Homo sapiens: one gene and its partner. The protein of the gene in region 1 purifies or fractionates together with the protein of each later gene. This does not show direct contact. Each region holds a gene or a part of one and is shown on either strand. Other genes may lie near its edges.

The links. Proteins that work in one complex are often made in the same cells at the same time.
Region 2: the proteins of COL11A1 (region 1) and LAIR2 purify together in Homo sapiens (co-immunoprecipitation; one large-scale study listed by IntAct). This does not show direct contact.

The regions. Positions count from the first base shown.
Region 1 is NC_000001.11:103,098,523-103,102,022, reverse strand, and holds part of COL11A1 (collagen alpha-1(XI) chain isoform A preproprotein), read left to right. Parts: intron 1-3,500. UniProt on the Homo sapiens protein: May play an important role in fibrillogenesis by controlling lateral growth of collagen II fibrils.
Region 2 is NC_000019.10:54,508,509-54,511,187, forward strand, and holds the end of LAIR2 (leukocyte-associated immunoglobulin-like receptor 2 isoform a precursor), read left to right. Parts: intron 1-526; coding exon 527-577; intron 578-2,017; coding exon 2,018-2,061; 3' UTR 2,062-2,179; downstream 2,180-2,679.

The DNA of each region.
Region 1 (3,500 bases):
CTTTGGCCTACTACTAACTTGGCTAGTGGTTCTTTAGACATTGGCTGATCACCAGACCTACTGTTATCTGGTAAAATAAACTCTTTGCTTGCTGCGCATGGAATTAGAGACAGTGCTATTAATTTAGGAGAAAGAACTTAGAGAAAGGAAAGGTTATCATATTTCAGAGTAAGAGACCAGCTTAAATACGACTTGACAATTGAGAACTAAAACAAACCTGTGTAAAAGTGCTTTAGCACAATTAACTTTTGCAATCCCCTCAAATCTTCTTTTTTTTTTTTCTTAAAAAGCATTTCTTTCTTATTTTAACCAAATTTAATTGCTCTTGAATGGCTCTGTACTGTACAGGCAAATGAAGCTCCCTATTCATAGAACTTGAGTGCACAGAGTATCAGGGGAAGCTTCCTTCCTCTGTTTGACTGGTAAACTGACATCCGGGCTTAAAGGAGTGAACCTTAGACTGTGTGAGGTAGTTGGCTTTCCTTCCTCACTCAGATTTTCACATAGACTCCCTGAAAGGATGACTGCCAGAAAGAGCAGTAGCTTGCTAATAAGAACTCTAGTGCATTTTCATACTTGGTGCTCTTAGGTAGCTCTGCACAGAAAGAAAAAAATGTAAATATTGAAGTGGTGTCTGTCTTTCCTTTACTTCTGTCTTTAGAGTCTAAGAGTGGAGCTCAACCTACTGCTGACTGTTACTCTTCCTTTTGCATGCAAATGAAACTTCAATTATTTCACTGGCTTTTAGGATAAGTTTGTTGTCTAATTGGGTTAGAGTGCCCTTCAGGATGTGGCATATCTTTATGTCCAGGCTCAAGACCAGCCATTTCCCACCTCCCCAAGCCCATTTCCATTTACCTTGCACTTTAGTGATGTTAAACCTCTTGCCTGTGTTCTCCCCTATCTTTGAACACTCACCCTGGAATGTCTATCTCATTCTCTTCCATCAGCAAACACCTTCTCCTACTTTATACTTCGAAATTTAAGTAAAATATCATAGCTCCAGAAAACTTTTCCTTATATCTCCAGGTGAGCCCTAATACCAAATACATGCTCAGTATGTACAAGGTTCTGTCATATGCACTTTCATAGAGAATCTTATTTAATTGAGACAGTTTTCCTGGAAGTAAGCTGATATCAAAATACTGATTTTACCCATGAGATAACTGAAAAACAGAGAAGTGAAAGATTTTGCCTAAAGTCACACAGCTAGTAAGTAGTAGACCCAGAATTTGAATGCTGCCAAGCTTTCTCCAAGGCCCTTGCTTTTGGCCACTTGTCCATGTTGACTTTGCTGGGTGTTCTAATGCTTCTATACAGCCTCCTAGGCTTATCTTATTATTATGGTGCCCTGGGGCCTAATATTAATGTACACATCATGCAGCTAAACCACAGAAAATACCAGGTCATTGGGTGAATAACTTGACTGCCTTCAAGGAGAAATAAAAAGAGGTTCTGGTAAAAGGTGATGTTAGAATCCAGATAGCTCTTCAGCCTGCACTTAAGTTCAGTGGTAGAGACCATATTACTCTTACCATTTTATGGACAAACCTCAGCCTCAGTGGTAGTGGAGGATTGAAAGGGGAGTTTCTGGGAGCCATCAAATATTAGTTTTGTTCCTTTGATTAACTTAAGGAGAAGCTGACAGATGTATCTGTTAGTATTCAAAGTTCCAGTTGTGGTTGGCTTGGTTTCATTAAGTAAAAGAACTCTTATAGATCATTGCTTGTCCTAATCAGGATCCATTATAAAGGTCATCAGGACTTATTCTACTTTTGGGGATTGGTGTATGGAAGTTCTCTTAACTGTCTTCAGCATAAAAAATGTCAGAGTTGATTATCCAAAAGCTTTTTTGGAGTGTAATCAACTGAGAGAATGTAACATCATTATTTTAAAAATTACTCACTTATGTCAGTCTTCTTCTAGGAGTTCCTGGGTGGGTAGTGACTGTGATCTAGTTTTATTTGTGTCCCCAGTGTCTACCATGGTGACAAAATACACAGCATTGATATAGTAACTATTTAGGTTAATTATATTCTTTTTTTACCCAGAAGACTGGAACAAGATTAAAATTGAGTTAGCTTGGAATGGTGTGAACTGAAAGTTTGAGGACCTCCTCAGATTATGCTGTTGGTAGTGACATGAGTAGTGACTCCTCTTTTTTAAATTCATTTGCTAAAAGTAAATAAATTTCAATTTACCTCTAGCTTTTTCATATGGAAAACAGTTCTGCATTCTCTCCAAAGGTGCCACTGAATATTTGTAGCTACAGAGTGACTATATTACCTCCAAAACTTTGTTTTGTTAATACCTTAAGATATGTAGTGGTATTGACCGTAGCATAAATCATCATTTTACTTTTCTACTAGTGAACAAGAAAGTTTAATCTGAGAATAATATCAATCTGTAAAATCGATCATTGGAAATAGTCCTCTCATATATTCATTATTGAACCTTTCATCTCAGATTGGTATGCTATTGGGGATTAGTTGTCTGACTTTGCTTATTAGCTATTAGAAATAGCAGTTTATCCATATATAATATATATATATATATCCATATATATAATGTATGGATGTGTGTGGGTACATGTGCATGTGTGTATAAATAAAGTGCTTTATGTTTATTTCAATAAACTCATTCTTCAAGTTAGAAAGTAAATTATATGTTTTATGTATATTGGAATTATTATATTATGAAGTACCATCTCCAAACAAGAAATATATAGAGCTTCAAAATGCTTAATAAGATTAATAGACAATAGTTGTAAAATTCTTTTGGAATATAGTTACATAGTTTTTATACTATATTGCTATCCATGGTATATTTTAGTTACACTAAAATCACTGGTATAGGTATGTTTATCTGATTTATTTCATCTAGAACAGAATCCATCTAGAACAGAAAGCATCTAGAACAGAATCCACCACATAGTAGGCATTTGGTAAAACTTTGCTGAATGAAGTGAGGGCGTTGTTGACATTGCTAATGACTTGATTGTCCATAACCTAACCACCTGAGATGTGATATATAGCTATGTGTATCACCTACTCTCAATGTCTATGGAAGTATCTTGAACCAATTTCTGCTGATATTATTGTGATTTCCTGAGACTATCAGTCTCTATTTTGGTTCTAGGCCAACCTATGACCTCTACCCTAAGCACTCTCCCACTTTGTTATTTCTGAAAGTAAAAATCCTCTTTGCTTGAGATTTAGATATTGTCTCCCTCTAGAAATAACTTTCTTCAAGCATTGAAGATTGGGGTAGTTAGCCTGGCATAACATTATAAAGCACACTATACTTATCCAAAACTCAAATACTTATCTCAAAATATTTTTGATGGTATAATGAAAGCAGGAAATACATCTTTTTCACTGATGCAAAACATTCTGGCATCTGTCACCATATCTAGAGGAAAATAGATAGCCAGTAAATATTTTTTGAATGAATGAACTCATAAGCAAGATATTTTCAATAAAGTCAAGAGGACTGGGGTC
Region 2 (2,679 bases), on another chromosome or scaffold:
GGGATGAGTGTCTTTTCACACAGGATTGATGGTCCCATTTGTTATTCCTTTCCACTGAGCCAGAACCTGCCCCAGGCAATGTGCTTCTCCTGGTGTGGTTCATCTCCCACTGGGCAGAACACAGGGTCCAGGGATGGCCCCTGACCAGGGCGGGACAGTGCTTTGGGAAAACCTTTGGTATGTGACCACATGCACTCCTGTGTGTGCTCAGCCCGAGATGTCCTGGAGTCAAAGTCCACTGGAGAGGATCCAACCCATCTTCATGTCCCCCCAGGACCTCAGCAGTCCCCTGAGGTCAAGAAGAGCTTGTGGTGGGAGGAGCAGAGGGAGTGACCAGCCCCAGGGAGAATGGGGCAAGCAGCGGGGCTCTCCCCAGCCTCCTGTCCCCTGCCCCGTTTTCTCAGGAGTCTCGAGACATTGTCTGGGATTGCGTGATGGTCATGCGGCCTTTGGATGGGGGCTCAGGGTGGAGGAGGGCAGGTTGGTTGGGACGGGTTCTAAATCCTTCTCCTGCCCCTGTTTACAGAAAGCTCTGGAGGCCCGGACTCCCCGGACACAGAGCCCGGCTCCTCAGCTGGTCAGTAGCAGGGCCCTCAGCTGGAGGGGATTACAGGGGAATCTGTGCTGCGGATGCTGTTCCGGGTCCAGCCCTCTGCCCTGGGCTTGGAGTCAAGGTCTAGGGAGGCCACGGGAAGGCACCGACACCCACCAAGCTCTGGGAGGTCGCTAATGCTCACAGAGACCATAGCAGCAATGGTACAGTGATTGCAACCTTGTTCCATGCCAGGAACTGTGGAAAGCACTTAATGCAAGCACCACTTAATGGGGGAGGTACTAGTCTGATCCTCTAACTCCTCCTCCTCTCTAATATGCAAAACATAAATTAAAGTTTCGTGCTTAACGGCACAAGGCCATGAAGGGGCAGGGGCCACCCACCCGGGCAGCCCCACCCCAGACTTCCGGGCTCTCCCGAGCTCCACGCTGCCCCCTTGTGGGCGTGGCCTCACCATTCACCCCGCTCTGCACCTGATGGAGGGACTTAGAACTCACCTTCCAACCTGGGACACCCGGAGAGGGACGGGGCTGCTCCTGTTGGCTCTGTGATCTCCGGGGGAGGCCTGAACGGTGGAGTAAGGTCCCTTAAGAGGAGGAGGGCTCCACAGGGAGGGGACGTAGCTGTGAACGGTGACCAGGATGAAGCCATGAGGCTTCCCTTCCATCTGGCTCTGCCCTGGACTCTGTGATGGGAGAGAAGCTGCCTCTGGCTCTGCCCCTGGACTCTGTGTGATGGGAGTGAAGCTGCCCCAAGTCCCTGGGTCTCAAGTTGTCCATCTCCGCCTGTGATCTGTGACCAGAAACTGCCAGGGGAGGACACGGGGTCATAAGCCATTCGCGGCCCCTTCCCCACCTGGGTTTCTATCCCCAGAGTACGTCCTTGGACCTAGACCCGGTGACTGCCTGTGAGGCTCGGGCTGTGAGCTCAGGCAGGTGGGACCAGGGGCTGAAGCCACATGGGGAGGTGGGAGGAGCGATGCCGTGCTCCATCCGGACCCCCTCAGAGGCTCCTGGGCTGCTGGGGCACAGCGGGACATGCTCCTGAGTCCCGCAGACCTGGTTCAAGTCCAGTGTCTGGTTTTTATTAGCCTTCTGTCTGCGGGAATATCTTGCCTCTGTTTCTCTCCCTCTCTTCTTCTCCTTCCTTCTCTCTTCTCTCACCTTCATGCAGTGACATATAAAGGTCACGAGGGCAGACCCTCCTGCAGCCAGATTGCTGGGTTCATGGTTCAAATCCCGGTGGTTCTGCCACCCCCTGGCTCTATGCCTGACGGTGACTCACCCAAACCTCCTGTGTCCCAAATTCCTCATGTGAAACAGAGGCAATAGAAGAGCTGTCCTGGTAGAATCGTTTAGGGCAGACTTGAGTTCAGGTACACACGGCGCTGACATCAGTGCTGATTAGAAAACCCCAAAGGAGGGATGCTCCTATTAATACTGAGGAAGTATTTTGTCCTCACAGGGACTGTGCCAGGCACTGAAGCCTCCGGATTTGATGCACCATGAATGAGGAGAAATGGCCTCCCGTCTTGTGAACTTCAATGGGGAGAAATAATTAGAATGAGCAATAGAAATGCACAGATGCCTATACATACATATACAAATAAAAAGATACGATTCGCAATGGAGAATTTCAGACCTATCATTTCAATTATATTAAATATGTTCACGTAATGTATTACATATATAAGGAACATAATTATATAATAAAAATATGTTAACATATCACCACATATCACTATAATTATATTATATGAAAGATTTATTTACAATATATAGTACAATAAATTTCAGGTGTTATTATAATTAATAAACAGGTACAAACATAAATATATATTATCTATTATTTATAGATTATAATTATAATAGAAAAATTTTATATTTAATTATATGTTTATATGTAATATACATTATACATTATATATTATAGTGAATATATGCAACATATATTATAAGTATAAATCATATACAATTAACATTATATACATTAAATTATGATGTATATGTCAAGATTACATAATTTAATATATATTTGTTATATATTATACGTTTGCATAATACATGATACATATAACTATAAATAATATAAAAACTGTAATATTGCACATATATAATACATATGTA